Homo sapiens: one gene and its partner. The protein of the gene in region 1 interacts with the protein of each later gene in a pairwise test. Each region holds a gene or a part of one and is shown on either strand. Other genes may lie near its edges.

Region 1 (7,025 bases):
AGGTAGAGACCAGCATGACCAACATGGAGAAACCCCATCTCTACTAAAAATACAAAGTTAGCCGGGCATGGTGGCGCATGCCCGTAATCCCAGCTACTCGGGAGGCTGAGGCAGGAGAATCGCTTGAACCCAGGAGGCGGAGGTTGTGGTGAGCCGAGATTGCGCCATTGCACTCCAGCCTGGGCAACAAGAGCAAAACTCCATCTCAAAAAAAAAAAAGAAAGAAATAATGAGATGTGCGCAAACACACATGTCTAAGAATGTTCACAGCATTATGTATGATTACTATTTTTTTGTTTTTAGAGACAGGGTCTTGCTATGTTGCCTGTGCTGATCTTGAATTCCTGGGCTCAAGTGATCCTCCCACCATGGCCTCCCAAAGTGCTGGAATTATGGGGGTGAGCCACCATGCCCGGGCAGCAGCAGCATTATTTAGATTGGCATAATATTGGAAATTATAAAAGTCACTGGAAAAAGAACACATTCATGCAATGTAGCCATCAAAAATCATGTTTTCAAACTAGAAGAGCACATGCTTAACATATAATGTTAAGTGAATAGGCATCTCACAAAATATTACATGCAATGCGATCATGACTTCGACATGTGACCCTGATTTCACTAAAATGGAAAAACAAAGCTGGGTGTGTCGGCTCATGACTGTAATCCCAGCACTTTCGGAGGCCAAGGTGGGAGGATCACTTGAGTCCAGGAGTTCAAGACCAGCTTGGGCAACATAAGGAGATCCCCATCTCAAAAATAAAAATAAGCTGGGCACGGTGGCTCATGCCTGTAATCCCAGAACTTTGGGAGGCCAAGGCAGGTGGATCACCTGAGGTCAAGAGAAGAGTTCAAGACCAGCCTGGCCAAGATGGTGACACCCCATCTCTACTAAAAATACAAAAATTAGCCGGGCATGGTGGCAGGTACCTGTAATCCCAGCTACTTGGGAGGCTGAGGGAGGAGAACTGCTTGAACCCGGGAGGCAGAGGTTGCAGTGAGCCGAGATTGTGCCATTGTGCTCCAGCCTGGATGACAAGAGCAAGACTCTGTCTCAAAAAAAATGAATAAATAAAAATAAATAAAATTGAGAAACAGAAAGAGAGACAGAAAAGAGATGGGAAGGAAACACACCAAAATGAAAAAGCTCTTTTCTCTGTGGTAGGATTATGGATAATGTCTGTCTCTGCTTAAATTTCTCCACATTTTCTGAAATAAGTTTGTTACCTTTTATTGTAGAAGAAAAAAAAATTTTTTTTTAAATATGGGGTCTCAGGCCAGATGCGGTGGCTCACACCTGTAATCCCAGCACTTTGGGAGGCCAGAGGCGGGCAGATCACCTGGGGTCAGGAGTTTGAGATATGGGATCTCGCTTTGTTGCCCAGGCTGGACTGCAGTGGTACAATCATAGCTCACTGTCACCTTGAGTTTCTGGGTTCAAGCCATCCTTCCACCCAAGCAGCTGGGACTACAGGTGCATGCCACCATGCTCAGCTAACTTTTTAATTTTTTTGTAGAGACAGGGTCTTGCCATATTGTTCGGGCTGGTCTCGAACTCCTGGACTCCAGTGATCCTCCTGCTTTGCCTCCCGAAGTGTTAGGATTACAGGCGTGAGTCACTGCACCCAGCTGAAAATTTATAATATTGAGTTGATAAAGTTTCCCTATACCACCCACTCAATAATTCTAGTTCCAGTTCACACCTGTAATCCCAGCACTTTGGGAGGCTGAGGCAGGTGGATCACTTGAGGCCAGGAGTTGGAGACCAGCCTGGCCATCATGGTGAAACCCCATCTCTACTAAAAATACAAAAATTAGCCTAGTATGTTGGCACACACCTGTAATCCCAGCTACTCAGGAGGTTGAGGCAAGAGAATTGCTTGAACCCAGAAGGCAGAGGTTGCAGTGAGCCAAGATTGCGTCACTGCACTCCAGCCTGGGCAACAGAGCGAGACTATCTCAAAAAAAAAAAAAAAAAAAAATCTAGTTCCTCTGAGGCTCGATAAATGTCAATCAAATGAATGCAAAGCAAGTGTGACTCCTCTTCTAAATAGTCATAATTACAGAAGATGTTTATTGACCACATACCAAATGCCTAGCTCTGTGCTGAAGTCCCTCATATCAGGCCTCGTGAACTCCTCATAACCACTCTGTGAGGGTCTATCACTACTCCCGTTTCACAGATGATAAAGCTGAGGCTCAGAGAGGGTGTGTATGTATTGTTCAAGCTCACTCTCTTAGTAAATGGCACCGCTGGGATGTAATTCCAGGTCAGTCTGGCTCCAATGCCCAGGCTCTCAACTGCTGCCACCCCATGCAGAGGCCTCAGAGATTTGCAGACAGCAATCTACCCTCTACCCCATCCCCATTCCTCGCTTCTCTACCTAGACGTCCCCAGCACTCGCCTCCATTCCGCCATGTCATGGACAGCAGCAGCAGATGGAAACATGGAGTGATTTTGGAGTCAGAGAGGCCTGGGTTGGAATCTCGACTCCACCCCTCTCTTGCTGTGAGAGGCACTCGCTCCCTCTGAGCCTTCTTGTCCCCATTTGCAAATGAGAACAGAAAGCCCCCATCACAGGGCTGTGGTGCAGCTTGCATACTTCAACCTCAATATGGCCTCTGGATCCAGAAGCCTCTGGCATGTGGCAGAAGCTTAGGAAGAGGCTTTTCAGTGTTCTCAGTGACTCCTATGGACCCACCGCAGTGCGTCTGTAAGTCACACACACTCCCCAGGGAATGAACCCAAGACCCAGGAAGAAGCAGGCTCCAGGCAAGACCAAGAGATGCAGCAGGAACAGCAGCCAGGGCTGCTGCTTGTTCTCTCTGCTCAGCCTCACCAGAAGTCATCTAGCCCAGCCTCCTCCTGCTGCCTCCTTCCTTTTTTTTTTGAAATGGGGTCTTGCTATGTTGTCCAGTCTGATCAACATCTTAGCCTCTTGAATAGCTGAGATTACAGGCATGCACCACCATGCACAGCTTCCTGCCTTCTTGTTAGGTCCAACAGCACTCCATTTCAGAAAGGGGACAGCTGAGCACAGGGTTTTAATGGCCCCATCCAAGGTCACATGGCTCTCTTTTCATTGCCCTGAGCCACCCTCTCTAGTCTCCCCACATTGAGCCCCTCCCCATCCAATCCACCCCTCACCCCCACACCAAATTCATTCTCTTGAAGACCATTCTGCACAGATTGCTCCAAAATCCCCCTCCCCATGGCCTGTGACCCAAAGCTTCCTCATTTCCCAGCACGCCAACCTTACCATGGGACCCCTGAGGACCTGTCCAGCCTCAGCTCCCACATCCAGACTAGAACCTCAGCACGGCCTCTGGCTCCTCACACAGTCATGCTGGGCCTGCCTCCAGGCCTCTCCTCAGCCCTCCCTCTCACCATCCCCATGAGAACACCTGCCTCCAATTACCTGGGGCTACTCTACCAGGTGTATCTCCTCAGGAATCATGGGTGGCTCCCGAGCCCAGCCAAGCTCAGCACCTAGCAGGTGCTTTTGACACTATGGTAAGAAGGACACCTGCTTACGACGCCTTTCCTGCTTTTGTCCCTGCAGCCTCTCCATCCTCACAGCCACCCTGGTCCCCAACACTCTCGTCTCAGCCTCGGTGAATTGGTGAATCATTGCTCCTGTGGTTCCCTCTATCTGGAATGCTCCACTCACACCTCTCCAGGGAGCCAACTGCTGCTCCCCTCCATGATGCACAGGCATCCCCTCCTCTGGCTGGGTCTGGAGACTCCCTGGACTCCCATAGTTCCAGGGAGCTGCACTTGTCTGTGGAGTTGCAACTAACCAGGGGGTGGCATGGGACATAGCTGTGTTAGGAGCCAGGGGGCGTATGGAGGTTTAAGCTGTGGGTCTGGGCAGTGAGAGCTGAGGCTGGACAGGCCTGGCATGGGTCAGCATCAGCAAATGCTTTACTGACTGAGTACACGTGCAGGCAATGCAGGACATGGGAAAGGGCCAAAGGTGGAAAACATAGACGACCAGGCCTCAACAGCCCACCTGCACTCTGCCCACCTGCAGCCACTGCAGGAAACCACAGCGCAGGGCATGCCAGGTGCTATGCTACAGCCTTTCCATGCTCGATCTCTTTGAGTCCTCCCAATAACCTGTCATATCGCCCCAATTTTTTAAATGATAAAATGAGCCAGGCGCAGCGGCTCACGCCTATAATCCCAGCACTTTGGGAGGCCAAGGCTGGCGGATCACTTGAGGTCAGGAGTTCGAGACCAGCCTGGCCAACATGGTGAAACCCCCCCCCCGCCCCGCCCATCTCTACTAAAAACACAAAAACTAGTTGGGCGTGGTGGCGAGCGCCTGTAATCCTAGCTACTGGGGAGGCTGAGGCACGAGAATCCCTTGAACCAGGGAGGCAGAGGTTGCAGTGAGCCGAGATCACACCACTGCACTCCAGCCTGGGCAACACAGTGAGACTCCATCCAAAAAAAAAGGGAAGTTAAGCTGTTTTTGCCCAAAGCCACACCTCTGGGACATGGATAGAGACCAGGCGCTCCCTGACCTCTAGTCACAACCTTTACCACTGCACTGTGTCATCTCACTGGAATCTCTCCTGGCCCAGAGGCCCTGGGTCCAGACCCCAAGAGAGGGGAGGGAGACAAGAAGCCAAGGGGCTTCCAAAAACAGGACACAGATTCAGTGCTACAAATTCTGCTAAGAAGACACTTCAGCATTTTCCCCAGCAGCTTCTGGAACCTCGGCAGGAGACTGAAGAAATAACCAGAACCCTTCATTCACCTATCCCGACCCTGCCACAGCCCACCTGCCTGGCCCAACTCCCCTCCCTGCTGGGTGCTGCAGTCACCTCAGATAGGAGGGAAAACGCGGTGCTTTGCCAACATCATCTCATCTAATCCTGAGGACAAAGGTACCTATGAGATAGTACTATTACCCACATCTTCCCGATGAAGACAGGTGCAGTGAGGCGATCCGGCTTGCTAAAGCTCTTAGTAAGTAGCAGAGCCAGCATTTGATACAAGGAGACAAATCAGAAGAGACATGGGCTGAGGTGAGATCAAGGGGCAGAGAAGCACACAGGCTGAAGGCGTCTCATGGAGGCTGGCCGGGGCTGGCAGGAGGCAGGGCATGCTGCGAGGGTACAAACCTGCTGAAACCTAGCTCGGGGCGCAGAGGAGGCAGGGAAACAGAGAAGGCTGTGGAACAGACAGGAGGCCAGGTAGGAAAGCACTGACTCCTCTTGCCCAGGTTCTGGGTCGGGCCACCCAGGATCTGGGCCAGGCGGGAGGAAGAGGGGGTCACCTGCCACAGGTGAGGGGCCTGCTAAGCCCATCACACCACACCTACCCAGTGGGCTGCCCATGGGAAGTCTCTGAGATGCCAGCCCTGCAGAGGACACTGACTCTGCCCGGAGGAAGGGGTTGTCCGGTGTCTGCTCTGAGGACCAGGGCATCCCCATGGCCAGCACGAGTCATCGTGCTGGCCAATCCCACATGCAGGAGGAGGGGGTGATGCTCTGCCTTGGGACCACCTGTCCACAGAAGTCCTGCTCACGCTTCATGGAAGCCTCATTCCCTCCAGCCACAGGCTGTTTGCTAAAAGCACAATTCCCAGAGGCCCCTCTCAGGCCCCCAGGATGAGACAGCTTCTCAGGTAGCTTCTTGGAGGGGAGAGAGGACAGAGTGTGGGGCCTGCAGGATGGAGGATGCTTCTGACCTGGAATTCTGAGATTCCTGGTTCTTACGTTCAGGCCCTCATCAGCATCCTGCTTCCCAGCCACAGCTCCTCCCTCAGCTTTTGACTCAGTTTCCCCTCCTCGTCCTTTAGCTCTGCAGAGGCTTCTCTGATCTCTCCGCCCAGCTGAGACCCTCCCCTGCCCCCATCATGGGCTCCCAAATCCCCCACATACTTTCACAGATAGCCCCTACCACAGCTACAAACTTCAGTTTATTGGATGACTGGCTGACGAATGTCTGTCTCCCACCAGACCCTAAGCTCCGGAAGGTCTGGAGCACGGTGTGGTTTTTTTCTTGGCATTTAGCACAGAGCATGTAGAATGTTGTAGAATGAGTTAATTCTTTTCAGTCCTTCACACAGAGCCCCTCATGTTCTCAAAGAGCTTAGGGTCTAAAAGGCTCAGATATCACACATTATGCCACTTAATCCTCACCCCCACCCTGGAGGCGCTGTTGGTGTTCCCACTTTAATGAGAAGAGCTTCAGACAGCTCGTCACTAGCCCGAGTACACAGCAAGTAAGTGGCTTTGAACTCAGATATGTCTGGTCCAGAGCCACAGCTCTGCCCACTACACCACCCGGCTTTCCTTCCCCAAGGGTCTCTGAATCTTCCCTTGCACACCTGCTCCCCACCCCCCACATGCTGCCTAAGCTCAGGACTGACAGGCAGAATTCACTCATTCAACCACTCATTCACTCAACCCAGCAGCCGGCTCATGTACTGGTTGTGGCAGGCCCTGCTTGGGCTGCCAGGAAACCGCAGATGGAGCGCAGCTCGAGGAGCCCTTCAGGGGAGCAGGGTCCCTTCTCCAGCCCGGGCTGCGCTCTCCCCACTGCCCTTGGGGTGTTTCCAGCAGAAGCCAAGACCCAGGCAGCTGCCCTGCCCTCAGACTCTCGTTCACTGTTCACTGGGGAAGGACTGAGCGCCAGCCCTTATCATTCAGCCTCCCCAAAGGACAGCAGCCTAAAATGCACAGGCTGAAAAACGCAGAGGAGCATAGTCCCCAGGTCTCTGCTCTCTGAGGACTCTAAGACAAGAGGAGGGACACAGCCGGGCACCATGGCTCCGCCCGTAATCCCAGCACTTTGGGAGGCCGAGGCGGGTGGACTGCTTGAGCTCAGAAGTTTGACACCAGCCTAGGCAACATGGCAAAACCCTGTCTCTGCAAAAAAAACTAAAGTTAGCATGGCGTGTGCCTGTAGTCCCAGCTACCCAGGAGCCTGAGGTGGGAGGATCGCATTAAGCCCAGGAGGTCGAGGTTGCAGTGAGCTGTGATTGCGACGCTCCAGCCTGGGCAACAGA
Region 2 (6,923 bases), on another chromosome or scaffold:
AAAGTGGCATTTCCCCATGTAGGACGTTTCCTAGTCAGCTACTCACTTAGGCGTGGAACTGCTCGTTTTCCACGCAGTTTGACCACCCCAGTGATATCCCACTCCAACTTCACGGGAAGGAGGTTGAAGTCTGTTATCTGTTATCATCAATGACTGGGGGCGCCTTTTAAAAAATTTAGCTTGGGCAGTTGAGATGCAACTTTTATCCCACTGGGGGCACTGAGGAAGGGCTTAGTTATGGATGCTGTCTCTTGTACCCTCTTCTTCTATAACATGATAAACAGTGTCTGGACCTCTAGTTTTAGAGAGTTGGGCAAGAAAAAGGGGGAAGGTCATTTTGACTCCTCCTAAAATGTAGCTGAGGCTTGTCGCTTAGAACCATCAAAACTGCAGGCCAGGAGCTCCTGCCCAGGTACTCCATCACTGCTCTCAACTCCAGTCCAGAGCAAGAAAATCCATTTGGAATTTTAAGGGTTAAATATCAGACTCTAAAAGTTTGATGCAGGCCAGGCACGGTGGCTCACACCTGTAATCTCAACACTTTGGGAGGATCACGTCAGACCATGAGTTTGAGACCAGCCTGGGCAACATAGTGAAACCCCCATTTCTACAAAAAAAATTTTTTTAAAAATTAGCTGCATGTGGTGGTACTTGCTTGCCTGTAGTCCCAGCTACTCCAGAGGCTGAGGCACGAGGATTGCTTAACCCCAGGAGCTCAAGGCTGCAGTGAGCTACGATTGTGCCACCGCACTCCGGACTGGGTGACAGAGTGAGACTCTGCGTCTACAAAAAAAAGTTTGATGAAAGGGGTGACGGATGGATGAAACTCTACCTGCTGGGCACCTAGTCTGTGCCTTCTGTGGGCAGTGGCCAAGGTCCCCAAAGATGGGGCTGCCTCAACCAGGAGATATGAGAGGTTCCTGATACTGCTTGGGAGAGGAGGCTAGTATGTCTCTCGGTAACAGTCCCTTATAGCAACCTACATGGAGAAAAAACAAAAACAAGAAAAGCCACAAAAAGAAAAAAAATCAGGCCCATTTGGACAAAGCAGAAAATTGACTAGGGTACAGTCCAGGAAGAATGTCAGCAGCAATCACTGTCTGCTAATCCCAGCCCAGTTTTAATCAGCGTCTCCCTGGCACTCTGGAGTATTTATTCTATGAAAGATTTAAGCCAGTTTGTTTTTAAGAAGAACCATCCTAATCCCCTCTGTTTAACTGTTTAACTTAATCTTGGTTACCAAGTTACTTAAGGAGCAGAGTGGAAGAATTGCTCCCCCTCCTACAAACGTGATTAACCTGTTTTAGCTTATTTTTCCTAAAGTCTCCAGGGCAGTGCCAGCTGGGGGAAGGGGACAAGCCACAGACAGGAGGAAGAGAACAGCGGAGGGAAGGGAAGGGAAGCAGGTGACCACCAGGAGGGTGTGACAGGCAAGCTGGATGCTGAGCCAGAGCTGAGGTTCCTCTGTTCTCACAAACCAGGTGAAGAATGAGGTCACGGGCTAGAGTTTGGGGGCTCTTATCTCTTTTTTATCGTGTCACTTTTTGTCTGTCCTTCAAGAGGACAGAGAAGAAAACACAGAAGACACAAATAATTCAAGGCCACGTGCATGGGAGCAGGGCAGCCTGCTAAGTTCTGCTTTCATTCCTTCCCTAAACATTCATTCCCTGAAGTTGATAGGCGCCTTCGGGATTAGAGCTTCAACTGTGGTCATCGAAGCCCACCAGGACACGACCACAGACCACGGATTGGCTCCACGGTTCTCTTCCTCCCCCAACCTTCTCCTCAGTGCCACTATTGGGAGCTCTTTCTGTGTCTCCAGGGGCTCTCAGATAACCAGGGTCCCAGGTGAACTCCCGACAAACACAGGTGCACCATGTCGTTTGCATGGGTGTCGCTGGCCCCCGCTGCTGGGGCAGGCTGGCCTGCTGCTTGGTGCAACACCCATCAGTCACTTCTGCCAAGGCCCCTACTCTGTCCTGACCCCGGTGGGGGCCATGGGGTTGGGGGAATGGGACTGGGATAGGAGATGAACATGACAGCTTTTAGGAAGAAGATATCTTGGTTTCCTCTGGAAAAATCCTTCCATTTCTTTAAACCCACCACAAGCCACTTTGAGGGACTGCCTGAGCGCCCCATGTTCCCCTACCGACCTCCCCTCTTTGCCCTCCCACTGACTCCCAGACCCCCGGTGGGCGCAGGTCGGTACTCACGCTGCTGGGGTGGAGGACGGGCAGAGGCAGCAGCAGGAGCGGGACGCAGACGACCAGCAGCAGCTTCCGGACTCGGAGCAGGCCCTGCAGCAGGCCCATCGCGCCTCTGTCCTCTCCAGCTCGTCCTTGGACCCCGCTCTGCCGGCGAAAGGCTTCCTGCCTGGGCACTGCTCTCTATCCAGAAAGACTTCTTAAACCTTTCTTGGCTTCCGAGAGTCCTCCTTCGTCTTGGGGGCAGAACGGGAGGGCAGTTATACCCTCGCTGTTTCTACAAGAGGCTGGGCTCCTGGCCTCCTGCTTTAGGTGGGATTGATGAGCATCGTTTTGTGACCAGCAAAAAGGAACTGGGAAAGGATGATAAACGGGGGCATAGTGGGCCTCCTCTCGGCTTGATTAGTAATAGAGTAACTTCATTCTAGGTGTCAGCAGAAACCCCCTTAATCCTTTAAGCCACACCTTTGCTGCTGCTGCTCGGCCTTGAAGAAATCATTTAAAAGCTTAAAAACATTAAAAACGCTCAGAGCACATTGTGCTCTCCATCAGTTTTCCTCCCTCGGATGACCTATTTTGGGGAGTACCTGTTTCATCTCCCACCTGGGCTCGCTGTTGGTAAGACTCTAGTAGCCCCTTTCCTTAAAACAAGCACCTGAGCTTGTCAGAGTTGCATGCGGACTTCAGGTGGGGCTGCTGGTCGCTCCCAGGACGTGGTACCTTAACTCTGTTCACATGTCTTTCCCTCAAATTGGTTCCCTACTTATAATTTGCCTTGAGCCTGGGCCTGCAAAGCAGAAAAGAAAAGTCCCCAAGACATTCCTTTTTATCAAAGGACAAAACTTGCTGGAGGCCCACCTTTAACTTTCATCCACCAATGGGAAGCCGGGACAGAGACAGTAGCTCCGCCCACTTCTCAAAGCCAATCAGCAAATTGAAAAGAATGAGTCAATTTCTCTCCCCGCGGCCGCTCTTGATTGGTCACAGCGGGGGCCTGCTGATTCCGCAGAACCTAGGCAGCCTGCTAAGCTTATTTTTCAGTTTCTCAAACTTCCTAGGGCTGGAGTGATGACCATCATCGTAAACATAATCTCACGTACCCAAGCACAGCTTTATTGTTTCGGATCATAGGACACAGAGCTTTCGCTGGGAGGGCCACCTGCTGATCTAGACCTTGGGAAGGGAATGTGCCTGGTGGCAGGGAGAAAATGCAACATTACTTCTGGAGAATTTGCCTCAGAGTGTACAAAGTTAAGCCTTTCAGACCTCCCTGCTGGCAAAGATCGTTTGCCTCAGCACCGAGGGGGGAATATAAAGGGTCTAGGCCAGCAGAGGGTATGAGCTCGTGAGAAAGACCCCAGATCTTTTGGGAAGTATAGCTGCCTCCCTGGCAAAGTCTAGATGCCAGTCTCATGCCCAGATGTCAGTGGTCTCTCTGGCTAAAGTAGGTGCTCAAATGCTTCTCTCTGGGGCTCTCCAAAAAGGAAACCGAAGACCTTCTTTGGCTGGTACGAAAGGAGGAGGTGGGAGGGCAGGGAAGAAGTTGACAAGTTCAGGGACAAGGTCTTAGCTGCAGTTGAACTCTGGAATTTCTCCTGTTTACAGATTGGAAGAAGTTGTTAGCTTCTTTTCTCAGAACGGACATGTGGATTTGGGGCAAGGAAGAAAAGCAAAAGCAAAAGCCCAAACATTCTGTAAGTAGTGGTTCTTGGCAACATTACCTTACCTTGATCTGGGAGATGCTGAGCAGAGTCAAAGGGTTATAAAACCCATGTTGTCTTGAATTCACAGAACACAGGAATGGCGTTCGAAGATCTGCAACTATACTACTTGGAAATGATCCCCAGGCTAAAGTGACCAGGGAAGTGACCCAAAAAACAAATTCTTCTTGACTTTTAAGGCAGGTGCAACTGTGGACAGCTGAGGTCCCCTTTGAAATTATCTTGCCATCGTAGGATGGGCTAGGATGACTCAACTCTTTAAATGCATGTTAAAGACTGGCTACTGTATTTACTACATTCTGGCCTCATTTTTTTTTGGTTATGATTTTGAAACTCAGAATGAACAATACCACGTGTGTGATGTTTTGGTCGCAAACATTAAAGACAGCGAATAATTATAAGCAGCTGTGGAAGTCAACATCCACTGTTAAACCCATGAACCATTCCAAATTCCTCGGTGAGATACTCTGAGATAACAAAGATTCCAGTGAGCAACTCAATCATGACATCTTTATTATACCATAGATGAATATTTGTTAAATAAAAATAGGTACAGCAAGTGTACAATAAGACCAGTAGTTCTCCTTCAGAACTCTACCCATTTTTCAGAGGAAGGAAACACTTTTCCAGAATACAATGCTCAAGAAATGTAAGCCAGATCCCGCTTGTATGAGGTATCTTAAGTAGTCAGACTCTCAAAAACAGAAAGCAGAATAATGGTGCCAAGAGCTGGGGCAGGCAGGGGGAAGGGGAAAAGAGGAGTTGTTCGGTGGGTATAGAACTTCAGAATTACAAGATGAGAAAGTTCCGGGGGTCTGTTTCACAACATGCATGGAGTTAACACTGCTGTACCATATGCTTAAAAATGGTTAAGATGGTACATTTTACCTGATGTGTTTTTTACCACAATAAAAAAAATAAGATTGAAATGGATTAGGAAAGTAAGGGGTGTTGTAAAAAGTCATTTAACAAGCATTTGATTTTAGACCATTGGACCTGCAGAAATACTTTGATTTGTTAGATTCAAGGTGAGGTGACAGAGCAATGAAGTCTGCAGCAGTTAAATGTCTGTTGATGTCTCTTGAGTGACATTGGAGATAGCTGTGAGGATGCCAACGATGGAGGAAACTTAGAAAGTTTTTAGATCCTGGGCCAGGCACGGTGGCTCACGCCTGTAATCCTAGCATTTTGGGAGGCTGAGGCAGGTGGACCACTTGAGGTCAGGAGTTTGAGACCAGCCTGGCCAACATGGTGAAACCCCATCTCTGCTAAAAATACAAAAAAATTAGCAGGGCATGGTGACGTGTGCCTGTGGTCCCAGCTACTTGGGAGGCTGAGGTGGGAGAATCGTTTGAACACTGTAGGCGGAGGTGCCACTGCACTCCAGCCTGGGTGACAGAGCGAGACTGTCCCAAAAACAAACAAACAAAAACAAAACAAAAAAACCCACAAAGTTTTTAGATCCTAAAATTTGTCAGCAGAAATGGTTACATAAGTCATGGGCAAGTTTCCACCACAAACATCACACTCCCATATTATTCTAATAGTAATTATAACCAAATGTGACCCCTTCGTGACTGTAGTTGTATAGAGTGTGGCACTAATGAGGCAAAATAGGAGACCCTGTTTGTCTGTCTAGTCTACATTTCTACTACTCCTTGGGCAAAGAATAGGGTTTTTTGGCTGCTGGTGGTGATCATAATATTTGATTCTGCATGTCAGTGAAATCATTGTCATAAAACTCTCTGTGGGTAAACAATGATCTGCATTCAGATTAAAATAGTTTTTAAGACTCTAGTTACTGAAAATGAGTCTTCATTTGTCTTTAAAAAGGTCATGTCCTTCTTTTTTCTATTTTTTTTTCAGTCATTGATTGCCACAAAAATTCAAGCCCCAATTTGTGTTTAATTTTTTTGTTGCTGGGTGAATGTTCCTGGGAACCATCTTCCCATTCATGGATTTCTTACTACTGGGAGCAGCCATCTACATAACATGGTGGTCAGGGACTACAAGGGTGGGCCTTTCCATCTGATGATTCTGAGTACAAGAAAGCTTTCAGATCCATTGTCAAGGGAGTGGAGCCTCGGGGCGGGATACAAGACTGACTATCAGGGTATTGCACAGTGTCTAGGGACTGAGGCCATTGCTAATCCACTCCCCATCTGACATCTAGGAAAAGTACAAACTGTGAAGATAGGCTACCATGTTTATCTGCCTCTGGCCGATCCCAACGCTGTCTGTACACTGACTTGTGTTTTACTTAGACAATGATACCCAGAGAAGACTGACAGACAGTGAGTGTTAGAGTGTGGGTCAGCAGAGATAGAGCAAAAGTCAAGCAGAAGAGTCTTGGAGATGCATCAAAAAACAGATACAGAGATATTTGGAATTGGGCCCAAATATACAGCAGCAGAGATACCAACTAAAATAAAAGAAAGAAAGACAGAGACAAGCAGAGTGACCATGTCAGAGAGAATATGTACATTTAGAAAAAGAAAGATTGAACAAAAAAAGCATATATCAGAATCTGCATTTGGAGGAGGTAAAAGAGCAGAATGGTCAGGGAATGAGAAAGAGAAACTGAGACTTACTAATCTTCTGAGCCTGAGAATATCAGGATGCAAAGCTGTGTTTTTCTCTGATGATGAATACCTTCTTCCAGTGTCCTAGTATTTCTCCAAAAAGATCATGCGGCTAGCACTGCTATGCAAAGCTTATTTGCTCAAAGATTTTGAAGGAGTCCAGACCTCATCATTATCAAATGACAACTGTTAAATACCCATTTCAGAATCAAATTTAGCCCAATAAATCCTCACTCATTCAAAGATCAGACTTGTTGCAGCTTTTGCTTGCTGAGCTCAGCTGTAAACTTAGGAGAAGACAGAAAGATCTCTGAGCTAATGAGGAATCCTTATTAGGACCCAGACGCTCGACCCCTAGCAGAGGACTTCATCTATTAACTCTTATTTAACATAGAATTATAACAAACCTGGCTATC

Evidence for each region. The genes of interacting proteins can lie anywhere in the genome.
Region 2: the proteins of OPRD1 (region 1) and SLC13A4 interact in binary tests that used the Homo sapiens proteins (3 or more experiments, as listed by UniProt).

What each region holds. Positions count from the first base shown.
Region 1 is NC_000001.11:28,815,151-28,822,175, reverse strand, and holds part of OPRD1 (delta-type opioid receptor), read right to left. Parts: intron 1-7,025. UniProt on the Homo sapiens protein: G-protein coupled receptor that functions as a receptor for endogenous enkephalins and for a subset of other opioids.
Region 2 is NC_000007.14:135,725,185-135,732,107, forward strand, and holds the start of SLC13A4 (solute carrier family 13 member 4), read right to left. Parts: upstream 3,003-6,923; 5' UTR 2,313-3,002; coding exon 2,214-2,312; intron 1-2,213. UniProt on the Homo sapiens protein: Sodium:sulfate symporter that mediates sulfate reabsorption in the high endothelial venules (HEV).